Linked DNA regions of Homo sapiens. The gene in region 2 interacts genetically with the main gene of each other region. Each region holds a gene or a part of one and is shown on either strand. Other genes may lie near its edges.

Evidence for each region. Genes that interact genetically often act in the same process or in processes that back each other up.
Region 1: of TLR4 (region 2) and ECSIT, changing one suppresses a phenotype caused by changing the other (phenotypic suppression), as found in Homo sapiens cells (one study listed by BioGRID).

The regions. Positions count from the first base shown.
Region 1 is NC_000019.10:11,519,135-11,526,134, forward strand, and holds part of ECSIT (evolutionarily conserved signaling intermediate in Toll pathway, mitochondrial isoform 1 precursor), read right to left. Parts: intron 4,720-7,000; exon of another isoform or gene 4,222-4,719; intron 3,417-4,221; exon of another isoform or gene 2,797-3,416; intron 60-2,796; 5' UTR 37-59; coding exon 1-36.
Region 2 is NC_000009.12:117,707,390-117,714,514, forward strand, and holds part of TLR4 (toll-like receptor 4 isoform A precursor), read left to right. Parts: intron 1-809; exon of another isoform or gene 810-929; intron 930-1,173; coding exon 1,174-1,340; intron 1,341-4,999; coding exon 5,000-7,125.

The DNA of each region.
Region 1 (7,000 bases), on a different chromosome or scaffold from region 2:
GCCTCGGGCCAGTAGGGTGGCCTGGACCCAGCTCATGCCTCTGCTTGTCAGACAATCACCTGGCCCAAAAGAAGATTCAGCATTAGCCTGGCACCTTACAGATGCTAACAGACGCAAGGGCCCCGCAGGGTCGAGGGCACACTCCAGATTATGTGGCTCACTCACCAGCCCCAATGTTTACCTTACCCAAGAAACAGGCTGATGACTCAAAGACTTTGTTCTTGGGACAGCACCCTAATCCTGCTGCCCCAGGGGCGTGATCATAGCTCAATGCAGCCTCCAACTTCTGGGCCCAAGTGATCCTCCAGCCCCAGAGCGTCGAGAAGCTGGGACTACAGACGCGTGCCACCATGCCCAGCTAATTTGAAAATAGTTTGCAGAGACCCAGGGTCTTGCTGTGTTGCCCAGGCTGGTCTCGAACTGTTGGCTTCAAGTGATCCTCCCATCTCTGTCTCCAAAAGTGCTGGGATCATGGGTGTGAGCCAGCACTCCTAGCCACTACAATCTAATTTTACAAAATCTGTGTCACTCCAACAAGAATCCCTGTACCTGGCCAGGCGCGGTGGCTCACGCCTGTAATCACAACATTCTGGGAGGCTGAGGCGGGCGGATCACTCGAAGTTGGGAGTTCGAGACCAGCCTGACCAACATGGAGAAACCCCATCGCTACTAAAAATACAAAAAATTAGCCGAGCATGGTGGCGCACGCCTGTAATTCCAGCTACTGGGAAGGCTGACGTAGGAGAATTGCTTGAACCCAGGAGGCAGAGGTTGCAGTGAGCCAAGATGATGCCATTACACCTCAGCCTGGGGAACAACAGCAAAACTCCATCTCCAGAAAAAAAAAAAAAGAAGAAAAAAAAAAAAGAAAGAAACCCTGTACCCATTAGCACTCAATTTCCCTTCACTCCCAACCCCAAGAAACCACTCATCCACTGTCTCTATAGATCTCCCTATGCCGGCCATTTCATACAAATGGAATCTGGAATCACAAGTGCTCCTTTATGATTGGTTTCCTTCACTTGACATGTTTTTTTTCTTTTTTCTTTTTTTCTGAGATGCAGTCTCGCTCTGTCACCCAGGCTGAAGTGCAATAGTGCCATCTCGGCTCACTGCAACCTTCGCCTCCCGGATTCAAGCGATTCCCATGCCTCAGCATCCCGAGTAGCTGGGATTACAGGTACATGCCACCACGCCCGGCTAATTTTTGTATTTTTAGTAGAGATGGGGTTTTATCACGTTGGCCAGGCTGGTCTCGAACTCCTGACCTCAAGTGATCCGCCAGCCTCAGCCTCCCCAAGTGCTGGGATTACAGGCGTGAGCCACCGCACCTGGCCCACTGACGTGTTTTCAAGGTTCATGCATAGATTTTTTTTTAATTTTTATTATTTTTATTTTTAGACAGGATCTTGCTTTGTTTCCCAGGCTGGAGTGCAGTGGCACAATCTCAGCTCACTGCAACCTCTGCTTTCCGGGCTCACGATTCTCCTGCCTCAGCCTCCTGAGTAGCTGGGACTATAGGTGTGTGCCACTGCATCCAGCTAATTTATAGATTTTTTTGTAGAGATGGGGTTTCGCCATGTTGCCAAGCTGGTCTCAAACTCCTTACCTTGTGATCCGTCCGCCTCAGCCTCCCGAAGTGCTGGGATTATAGTCGTGAGCCACCGCACCCGGGCTTTTTTTTTTTTGAGATGGAGTTTCATTCTTGTTGCCCAGGCTGGATTGCAATGGCATGATCTTGGCTCACTGCAACCTCTGCCTCCCGGGTTCAAGTGATTCTCCTGCCTCAGCCTCCCAAGTAGCTGGGATTACAGGCACCCGCCACCATACCCAGCTAATTTTTGTATTTTTAGTAGAGATAGGGTTTCACCATGTTGGCCAGGCTGGTCTTGAACTCCTGACATCAAGTGATCCACCCACCTTGGCCTCCCAAATTGCTAGGATTACAATCATGCCCGGCCAATTCCACTGTTTTTGGAATGGAATATAACCAGGTTTTGTATGGCTATAACCATATTTTATTTATGCATTCATCAATTGATGGACATTTGGGGTTGTTTGCCAAATGTTTTTGACTGTTATAACTACTACTGCCATGAACATTCGTGTAGAAGTTTTATGTGAACACATGTTTATACTTCTCTTGGGTATATACTTAGGAGTCAAACTGCTGAGACATATGGTAACTACATGTTTAACATTTTTAGGAACTGCCAGACTGTTTTTGGGGATGACTGCACCATTTCACATTCCCATCGGCAACGTACAGTTGACCCTTCATCAACAAAGGCTTGAACAGCATAAGTCCATTTATACGTGGATTTTTTTTTTTTTTTTCAGTAAAAGTTATGGCTGTACGTGGTGGCTAACGCCTGTAATCACAGCACTTCGGGAGGTCGAAGCAGGCAGATCACCTGAGGCCAGGAGTTCGAGAGCAGCCTGGCCAACATGGGAGAGACCCTATCTCTACTAAAAAAACAAAAAAACAAAAATTAGCCAGGCTGGGGGCACACTCCTGCAGTCCCCAGCTACTCAGGAGGCGGAGGCAGGAGAATCACTTGAACCCAGGAGGCAGAAGCTGCAGTGAGCCAAGATCGTGCCACTGCACTCCAGCCTGGGCGAAAGAGGAAGACTCTGTCTGAAAAATAAGAATAAGACCAGGTGTGGTGGCTCACGCCTGTAATCCCAGCACTTTGGGAGGCCAGGCAGGATAATCACTTGAGGTCAAGAGTTCAAGACCAACCAACCAACGTGGCAAAACCCCATCTCTACTAAAAATACAAAAATTAGCCAGGCTCCTTTTGCCGGTGGCGGCAAGCATGGAGAGGATGCCATGAAGGCCTCGGGCACACTACAAGAGTACAAGGTGGTGGGTTGCTGCCTGCTCACTCCCAAATGCCACACACCACCCCTCTACCACATGCGAATCTTTGCACCTGATCATGTCGTTGCCAAGTCCCACTTCTGGTACTTTGTATCTCAGCTAAAGAAGATGAAGAAGTCTTCGGGGAGACTGTCAACTGTGGGCAGGCATTCGAGAAGTACCGCCTGCGGGTGAAGAACTTCGGCATCTGGCTGCGCTACAAACTCCCAGAGCAGCACCCACAACATGTACCAGGAATATTGGGACCTGACCACCACGGGCGCTGTCACCCAGTGCTACCGAGACATGGGCGCCCGGTACCCCACCTGGACCCATTCCATCCAGATCATGAAGATGGAGGAGATAGCAGCCAGCAAGTCCCACCGGCTGGCCGTCAAGCAGTTCCAAGACTCCAAGATCAAGTTCCCGCTGCCCCACCAGGTCCTGCGCCATCAGCACAAGCCACGCTTCACCACCAAAAGGCCCAACACCTTCTTCTAGGGGTAGGGCCCTCACCCAGGTGTGCCCCACGTAAACTCAGGAACGCCCCGGTAAAAAAAAAAAAAATTAGCCAGTCATGGTGGTACATGCCTGTAATCCCAGCTACTCAGGAGGCTGAGGTGGGAGAATTGCTTGCACCTGGGAGGCAATGTTACAGTAAGCTGAGATCGCGCCACTGCACTCCAGCCTGGGTGACCGAGTGAGACTCTGTCTCAAAAAAATTAATTAATTAAATTTAATTAAATAAAAGTTACAACTTTAAACACTGAGGGGCTAGTAAAAAGAAAAAAGGTCGGGCACGGTGGCTCACGCCTGTAATCCCAGCACTTTGGGAGGGTGAGGCGGGTGGATCACGAGGTCAGGAGATCGAGACCATCCTGGTTAACACGGTGAAACCCCATCTCTACTAAAAATACAAAAAAAATAGCCAGGCGTGGTGGCAGGCACCTGTAGTCCCAGCTACTCAGGAGGCTGAGGCAGGAGAATGGTGTGAACCCGGGAGGCGGAGCTTGCAGTGAGCTGAGATCCCACCACTGCACTCCAGCCTGGGTGACAGAGTGAAAGAAAAAAAAGTTACAGCTGAATGTGCCTGCCTCTCCATCTACCTCCTCCACCACCTCTTCTGCCTCTGCCACCCCTAAGACAGCAGGACCAACCCCTCCTCTTCCTCCTCCTCCTCAGCTTACTCAATGTGAAGACGATGAGAATGAAGACCTTTATGATGATCCACTTCCACCTAATGAATAGTAAATTCAATGTGTTTTCCTGATTTTCTTAATAACATTTTCTTTTCTTCAGCTTATTGTAAGATTATAGTATTATATATATATATAACATTAAAAAATATGTTAATCACCCTTTCCCTGCCACTGCCGAGTTGCGCGGAGGCGGAGGCTTGGGTATGTTCAAGATTCAGCTTCACCCATAACCCACTGCCATGGCCGAGGGAGGCATTGCTGCTGGAGGTGTAATGGATGTTAATACTGCTTTACAAGAGGTGCTGAAGACCGCCCTCATCCACGATGGCCTAGCACGTGGAATCTGTGAAGCTGCCAAAGCCTTAGACAAGCGCCAAGCCCATCTTTGTGTGCTTGATCCAACTGTGATAAGCCTATGTATGTCAAGCTGGTGGAGTCCCTTTGTGCTGAGCACCAAATCAACTTAATTAAGGTTGATGACAACAAGAAACTAGGGGAATGGGTAGCGCTCTGTAAAATTGAGAGAAGGGAAACCCTGTAAAGTGGTTGGTTGCAGTTGTGTAGTAGTTAAGGACTATGGCAAGGAGTCTCAGGCCAAGGATGTCATCCAAGAGTACTTCAAATGCAAGAAATGAAGACATAAATCTTTGGCTCACATAAAAAAATAAGTTAATTGACTGTTATGTAATCACTGAGACCTCTGGACAACAGTGGGCTATTAGTAGTTAAGATTTTTTGTTTTGAGACAGGATCTCACTCTGTTGCCCAGGCTGGAGTACAGTGGTATGATCATGGCTCACTGCAGACTTGACCTCCCAACTCAAGCAATCCTCCCACCACTGCCTCCTGAGTAGCTGGGATTACAGGTGTGCGCCACCACACTCAACTAATTTTTACAATTTTTATAGAGGCTGGGTTTCCCTCTATTTTCCAGGCTGATCTCAAACTCCTGGGCTCAAGCAATCCTCCCACCTCGGCCTCCCAAAGTGCTGGAATTACAGAGGTGAGCCACTGCACCTGGCTGGATTTTGGGGGTGTCAAAAGTAGCCTGGCAGGGTGGCTCACGCCTGTAATCCCAGCACTTTGGGAGGCCGAGGTGGGCAGATCACGAGGTCAAGAGATCGAGACTATCCTGGCCAACATTGTGAAACCCCATCTCTACTAAAAGTATAAAAATTAGCTGGGCGTGGTGGCAGGCGCCTGTAGTCCCAGTTACTCGGGAGGCTGAGGCAGGAGAATCGCTTGAACCCAGGAGGTGGAGTTTACAGTCAGCCGAGATTGCGCCACACTGCACTCCAGTCTGGATGACACAGCAAGGCTCCGTCTCAAAAATAAATAAATAAATAGAGCACCCCACTGAAGGCTGGGCACAGCGGCTCATGCTTCTTATCCACTTTGGGAAGTCAGAGTGGGAGGATCACTTGAGCCCGGGAGATCAAGAACAGCAAAAAGAAAAAAAAAAAAGAAAGAAAAAAAATACCAGCTGGGTGTGGTGGCACTCATTTGTAGTCCCAGCTACTCAGGAGGCTGAGGTGGGACGATCACTTGAGCCCAGCAGTTCAAGGTTATATGAGCTATGATTGTGCTACCACACTCTGGCTTGGGTGACAGAGTGAGACCCTATCTCAAAAATAAAAAAATAAAAAATAAAAAGCACTCTGGCCAGGCGCAGTGGCTCATGCCTGTAATCCCAGCAATTTGGGAAGCCAAGGCGGGTGGATCACAAGGTCAGGAGTTCAAGACCAGCTTGGCCAAGATGGTGAAACCCCGTCTCTACTAAAAATACAAAAATTAGCGGGACAGGGTGGCGGGCGCCTATAATCCCAGCTACTAGGGAGGCTGAGGCAGGAGAATCACTTGGACCTGGGAGACAGAGGTTGCAGTGAGCCGAGATTGCACCACTGCACTCCAGCCTGGGCAACAGAGTGCAACTTCATCTCAAAAAAAATAAATAAATAAAAATAAACATAAAAAGCACTGCAATGACTTTCATATGCACCTAGGATTAAGACCTTAATTTAAATTTTCAGGGCCAGGCTCGGTGGCTCATGCCTGTAATCCTAGCACTTTGGGAGGCCATGGTGGGAGGACTGGTTGAGCCCAGGAGTCCAATACCAGCCCTGACAACATAGCCAGACACTGTCTCTATAAAAAAATTTAAAAATTAACCAGGCATGGTAGTATACACCTGTCTGTGTTCTCATTCCTTGGGAGGCTGAGGTGGGAGGATCACATGAGCCTGGGAGGTCCAAGCTACAGTAAACCAAGTTCATGCCACACACTCCAGCCTGAGCAACACAGCAAGACCCTGACTCAAAACAAAAAAACAAAAACAAAAACAAAAAAACTACAGCTACTTAAAGTGTGTTCTAGGGACTGGCAGTGTCAGCAACATTTGGAAGTTTATTAGAATAGCAAAATTTGGCCGGGCATGGTGACTCACGTGTGTAATCCCAGCACGTTGGGAGGTCCAGGCCAGCTGATCACCTGAGGTCGGGAGTTCGAGACCAGCCTGACCAACATGGAGAAACCCTGTCTCTACTAACAAAAAAAAAAAAAAAAAAATACAAAATTAGCCGGGTGTGGTGTATGCTTGTAATTCCAGCTACTTGGGAGGCTGAGGCAGGAGAATTGCTTGAACCTGGGAGGCAGAGCTTGTAGTGAGCCAAGAGCACACCATTGCACTCCAGCCTGGGCAACAAGAGCGAAACTCCATCTCAAAAAAAAAGCAAAATCTCGGCCCTATCCCAGACCTACTGAACTGGAATCTGCATTTTTTTTTTTCCCAGGCGGAGTCTTGCTCTGTCGCCCAGGCTGGAGTGCAGTGGTGCAATCTTGGCTCACTGCAACCTCCGTATCCTGGGTTCAAGCAATTATCCTGCCTCAGCCTCCCGAGTAGCTGGGATTACAGGCACATGCCACCATGCCTGGCTAATTT
Region 2 (7,125 bases):
GGTAAGGGATTAATGATAGATGATAATAATTAATGTTGACATCTATTGATCACTTATACTGTAGCGGGCTTTTAAATAAACTCTTTAAACACCTTATCTCATTTAATCCTTCAAACATTCTATTGGTTTCAAACAACAGAAAACTACAATTAGCTGGCTTCTGCAAGGAATTTTGTTGGAGGAAATGAGAGCATTCAGAAATTAGATGGGAGCGTTAGAGAATTAGGCTTACAAAGAATGTGGGAAAGTAGGCTAGAAAGCAGTGTAAAAACAAAGACAGCATAAAGCACTTGACCTTATTTACTAGGTTCCACCATGGGAATCCATGCACTCTAAAGATTTCCCCCTATTTCTACATCACTTTGCTCAAGGGTCAATGAGCCAAGAAAAAGAATGCAGTTGTCAAAATCTGGGCCATGACTAAGGAAGGTCTGGACATCTTGACTGCCAGACAGTCTCCCCAATGATATGGAGTATTTAAAATGATACTGGATATTTTATTTATTTTTTGTATTTTCAACTTTTAAGTTCAGAGGCACATGTGCAGAGCATGCAGGTTTATTACATAAGTAAATGTGTGCCATGGTGATTTGCTGCATAGATCATGAAAATATGGAACGCATCATGGATTTGTGTGTCATCCTTGTGCAGGGGCCATGCTCATCTTCTCTGTATCCTTCCAATTTTAGTGTATGTGCTACTGCAGCAAGCACGATATTGGATATTTTATTACCTACATTTTACATATGATAAAATGAGGCTCACTGAGGTTTTTCTTTTGTTCGTTTTATTTTGTTTTGTTTTTAAAGACTTGGCCCTAAACCACACAGAAGAGCTGGCATGAAACCCAGAGCTTTCAGACTCCGGAGCCTCAGCCCTTCACCCCGATTCCATTGCTTCTTGCTAAATGCTGCCGTTTTATCACGGAGGTTAGAATGCTGAGCACGTAGTAGGTGCTCTTTACTTTCTAATCTAGAGTAAGACAATTTATAAGCATGAATTGAGTGAATGGATGGATGGATATATGGATGGAAGGATGGACAGATGGATGAAAGGTTGACTGAATTTTGTGCTTGCACAAAAAGAGGCCCCTCTCCACCATCTCTGGTCTAGGAGAGGGGAGTTGGGAGACCATGCAGTAAAGATACTTCATGTCATGTGTAATCATTGCAGGTGGTTCCTAATATTACTTATCAATGCATGGAGCTGAATTTCTACAAAATCCCCGACAACCTCCCCTTCTCAACCAAGAACCTGGACCTGAGCTTTAATCCCCTGAGGCATTTAGGCAGCTATAGCTTCTTCAGTTTCCCAGAACTGCAGGTGCTGGATTTATCCAGGTAATGAATCCACTTTTACATACTGCACAAGGTGAGGTGTTCATTGTCCTGTCATTTCATTATTGGACTGGAAAGCTTGGTTTGTGGAGTCTCATCTTCATTCACTTATTCATTCATACAACAGATGTCTTATTAACTATATAACCTTGAGCAAGCTACCTCTATTCTCCAGGTCTCAGTTTTCTAATCTGTGAAGTAGGCAGTTGGCTGAGACAGCTTCTAAGGGCAATTCTAATTTTAGGTTTTCTTTTAAGACAGGAGAGAAAATTAGCTTAAATTCTTTCATAAGCAGCTATTTATTGACTACTTGCTATATGTTGTACACTCTGCAAGAAGACAGGCATATATTGATATATAACACACAGCCCCTGTTGTTAAGGAGGCATATCTTCTTGAAAGAGTTAATACCTTAAAGTCCTGGGTATGGTCCTGGGTACATAGTATATAGTCAACACATTTTAATTATGATTTTTTGGATCTGGAAACTGATATAAAGATAGCGACATATAACAGTAGGTGATAAATTATGTTTAAACTAAAGGTAACTAATTGTATTTTTCAGAAGAGGGGCCTTCTCTGTGGTGGGTAGTCAAGAAAGATTTCATGAACTGCATAAGATTCAAACAATGTCTAGAATATTAAAACTAGTGTACAGGATAGGGAATTAGGAAAAGACAAGTAACCCAAGGAGAAAGATGTCAAGATTAAAGGAAAACATCTGCTGTGGGCAGGGAATAATGGCTAAGATTTTCTTTTCTGATGCAGGGAAGTATATCGTTTGTTGTGGCAGGTGAAATGTCATCTTGATATTTTAGGGGAACCAAATTCTAAAAGGGTTTTCATCATCGGGGCCTTATTTGCAAATCGAACTAGATAATGGATCATGTTCTCTGCAATGGTTTGTAAAACATTTCAAAACATTTTACATATTTTTTATTATAGAAATTATTGATAAAGACTAAGGTCACAGTATAAAAATCCTTTTTAGAGCAGACATTTCTGTAGAAGAGTGAGCATACGACCTATTATACTCTAATTTGGATATAGATAGGATGTAACAAAGGAGTAATGGAACAATTCAAAGGCAGTGGTATAGTGCATAGAGTCCTGTTGGGGTCAGAAGACCTGAGCCAAGTTTACCCCCAACCTTTATAACCATGTAACCTTAGGCATATTACTTCATCTCCCTTAATCTTAGTTTTCATATCTGATCAATGGAAATGATGAAACTTATTCTGCTGGATTAAATGTGATAATAAATATTAATATGCTGTATATATTTAAATTTTTATAAAATATATTTTATAAGCATAAAGTATTCTTACAGAATTTCATTAGGTTTTTAAAATAATTTCAACTTTTATTTTTGATTCAGGGATTTACATGGTTATATTGCGTAATGCTGAGGTGTAGGGTACAATCGATACCATCACTCAGGTAGTGAGCATAGTACCCAATAGTTAGTTTTTCAACCCTTGCTGCTTTCTCTCTATCCCCTCTCTAGTAATCCCCAGGGTCTATTTTTGTCATCTTTATGTCCATGTGTACTCCATGTTTGGATCCTACTTATAAAGTGAGAACTCATGGTATTTGGCTTTCTGTTCCTTTGTTAATTTGCTTAGGATAATGGCTACTAGCTGCATCTATGCCATTATGTTCTAAATTTCAGTTTCCTGCATGAAAATTTTGTCAAGTACTCTATTAAGGTAGACCACCTCTCCCTTTTTTTTTTTTTCAAACAAGAAGTAGTTTTTCACCAAACAATGTCTCTTATGTAATTCATCTTCAATCCACTGGATACCCAATAAACTTGCCCCAGAAACCTTAAATCTGTGCTTACAGAGAGGCCAGCTTCCCTTCTTGTTAACCCATAGGAGATTCTGAATTAGGGCAAGCACAAAAGATAGCACAATAGACATCCTTTGCCTTTTCGTACAGTGTTCACATACAGTAACTCAACTAGTCTTGTAAGAATGCTTTGTGATAGACCAGGCAGCCTTCTTTCCCCTATAGAAATATATATATATTTCTTTTTATAGGTGAGGAAACTGAAGCTTGAATAATTTAAATGACTTATATACATTATCATTGCTTGTTAGCCACAGACCAGAGATTTAAGTTCACATCTCCAGAATCCAACTTAAATGTTTTCTTTGTCTTAATACTCTACTTCTCTAAAGTGATTATCACCAATGTAATGATATAGAGACACAGCAAGACCCTTTCCTTCTCACCTAATGTATAGAGCAATGCAGAGATAGAATGATGGGCTATAACAATCATATAATTGAAAGAAAGAACTTCAAAAATAATCAAGTTCAGCTGTTTGATTTATAAATGTGATAACTAAAACCTAGAGAGGAAAAGAGGTACTCAAGATCACACAGTAGGAGAGGACTGCAGAAACACCAAACCCAAGCTCTTTTGTCCACTCTTCCAGCGTTCTTTCTACTATACTGCCTATCCTTTATCTAGTTACCAATAAATAACAAAAGCTTGGACCACAATGCTTTTATTGTCTAGGAAACTCCTGAAGAAGCTAAATAAAATGGGTGGGGAATATTGTAAATGTAATTCAGGCTGGATTAAGAAAGAACTTATTTGTACATTGTAACTGACAAGCACCTGCAATGCTGAAAGGAATTTTTCATTGGCTTGCTGTTTGCTGGCTGCATCAAAGCCCTGTCTCTAGGACATGTCTCTGAACATTGTGTGTAGCATGGCTTTCATTTCTTTTAGGATAAAATTCAAAACCCTTTATCTGGTTGGTAAACCTCTGCCTAATTGGGAACCTTCTTTCTCCACAACTCCATATTGTACACTCCAATTTCATCTCTGTTCTCCAACCATGGAAGCTATTTGTCATGATTCCTCCTTGTGTCATTTTTTTTCTGTCAACCTTGGGGCTTTTGTGTTTGCTGTTCACTTCACCTCCTTTTATTGTTAACTTCTACTCATCTTTCAATTTTCAACTTAAGTGTTCTCAGAGAAACCTACTTTGATTTTCTTGGTCCACAACGGTTCTCTGGATGTGAACTCTTATAGCACATAATTTTCACTTTTTTCCACAAAACTCGCTCCTATCACCTGTTACAAGCATTTACCTCTGATAACAAGAACTTTCAAATATCTAGCTGTCATGTAAGCACTTTTCATAAACATTAAGAGTATCTGTGACACTTATGTGTAATTTTTCGTATCTCTGAAATTGATATTTACCAGTCATTTATCTTGGCTACCAACTAACAACTATCCATATTATCTGTACCAATCAGATGTATAATCACAATTTTGTGTGACAGAAAATGGCTAAACTTGATCCAAGGCTATTACATGCTTTATCAACTGCACAATCTTTATATATGTCAATTATTGATCTTTAACTGATTTCCTTCTTATGGATTTTCTCCTCTGCTTATCATGTATGCCTAACATGACAAAAAAGAGCCTATCATTGCAGCCAGTATGATAATACTCAGTCTGTGGGGCTTCTTATTTGCTTATTCCATCATCATCTGTCCTGCTTGATGTCTTTGCCTATGCACAATCATATGACCCATCACATCTGTATGAAGAGCTGGATGACTAGGATTAATATTCTATTTTAGGTTCTTATTCAGCAGAAATATTAGATAATCAATGTCTTTTTATTCCTGTAGGTGTGAAATCCAGACAATTGAAGATGGGGCATATCAGAGCCTAAGCCACCTCTCTACCTTAATATTGACAGGAAACCCCATCCAGAGTTTAGCCCTGGGAGCCTTTTCTGGACTATCAAGTTTACAGAAGCTGGTGGCTGTGGAGACAAATCTAGCATCTCTAGAGAACTTCCCCATTGGACATCTCAAAACTTTGAAAGAACTTAATGTGGCTCACAATCTTATCCAATCTTTCAAATTACCTGAGTATTTTTCTAATCTGACCAATCTAGAGCACTTGGACCTTTCCAGCAACAAGATTCAAAGTATTTATTGCACAGACTTGCGGGTTCTACATCAAATGCCCCTACTCAATCTCTCTTTAGACCTGTCCCTGAACCCTATGAACTTTATCCAACCAGGTGCATTTAAAGAAATTAGGCTTCATAAGCTGACTTTAAGAAATAATTTTGATAGTTTAAATGTAATGAAAACTTGTATTCAAGGTCTGGCTGGTTTAGAAGTCCATCGTTTGGTTCTGGGAGAATTTAGAAATGAAGGAAACTTGGAAAAGTTTGACAAATCTGCTCTAGAGGGCCTGTGCAATTTGACCATTGAAGAATTCCGATTAGCATACTTAGACTACTACCTCGATGATATTATTGACTTATTTAATTGTTTGACAAATGTTTCTTCATTTTCCCTGGTGAGTGTGACTATTGAAAGGGTAAAAGACTTTTCTTATAATTTCGGATGGCAACATTTAGAATTAGTTAACTGTAAATTTGGACAGTTTCCCACATTGAAACTCAAATCTCTCAAAAGGCTTACTTTCACTTCCAACAAAGGTGGGAATGCTTTTTCAGAAGTTGATCTACCAAGCCTTGAGTTTCTAGATCTCAGTAGAAATGGCTTGAGTTTCAAAGGTTGCTGTTCTCAAAGTGATTTTGGGACAACCAGCCTAAAGTATTTAGATCTGAGCTTCAATGGTGTTATTACCATGAGTTCAAACTTCTTGGGCTTAGAACAACTAGAACATCTGGATTTCCAGCATTCCAATTTGAAACAAATGAGTGAGTTTTCAGTATTCCTATCACTCAGAAACCTCATTTACCTTGACATTTCTCATACTCACACCAGAGTTGCTTTCAATGGCATCTTCAATGGCTTGTCCAGTCTCGAAGTCTTGAAAATGGCTGGCAATTCTTTCCAGGAAAACTTCCTTCCAGATATCTTCACAGAGCTGAGAAACTTGACCTTCCTGGACCTCTCTCAGTGTCAACTGGAGCAGTTGTCTCCAACAGCATTTAACTCACTCTCCAGTCTTCAGGTACTAAATATGAGCCACAACAACTTCTTTTCATTGGATACGTTTCCTTATAAGTGTCTGAACTCCCTCCAGGTTCTTGATTACAGTCTCAATCACATAATGACTTCCAAAAAACAGGAACTACAGCATTTTCCAAGTAGTCTAGCTTTCTTAAATCTTACTCAGAATGACTTTGCTTGTACTTGTGAACACCAGAGTTTCCTGCAATGGATCAAGGACCAGAGGCAGCTCTTGGTGGAAGTTGAACGAATGGAATGTGCAACACCTTCAGATAAGCAGGGCATGCCTGTGCTGAGTTTGAATATCACCTGTCAGATGAATAAGACCATCATTGGTGTGTCGGTCCTCAGTGTGCTTGTAGTATCTGTTGTAGCAGTTCTGGTCTATAAGTTCTATTTTCACCTGATGCTTCTTGCTGGCTGCATAAAGTATGGTAGAGGTGAAAACATCTATGATGCCTTTGTTATCTACTCAAGCCAGGATGAGGACTGGGTAAGGAATGAGCTAGTAAAGAATTTAGAAGAAGGGGTGCCTCCATTTCAGCTCTGCCTTCACTACAGAGACTTTATTCCCGGTGTGGCCATTGCTGCCAACATCATCCATGAAGGTTTCCATAAAAGCCGAAAGGTGATTGTTGTGGTGTCCCAGCACTTCATCCAGAGCCGCTGGTGTATCTTTGAATATGAGATTGCTCAGACCTGGCAGTTTCTGAGCAGTCGTGCTGGTATCATCTTCATTGTCCTGCAGAAGGTGGAGAAGACCCTGCTCAGGCAGCAGGTGGAGCTGTACCGCCTTCTCAGCAGGAACACTTACCTGG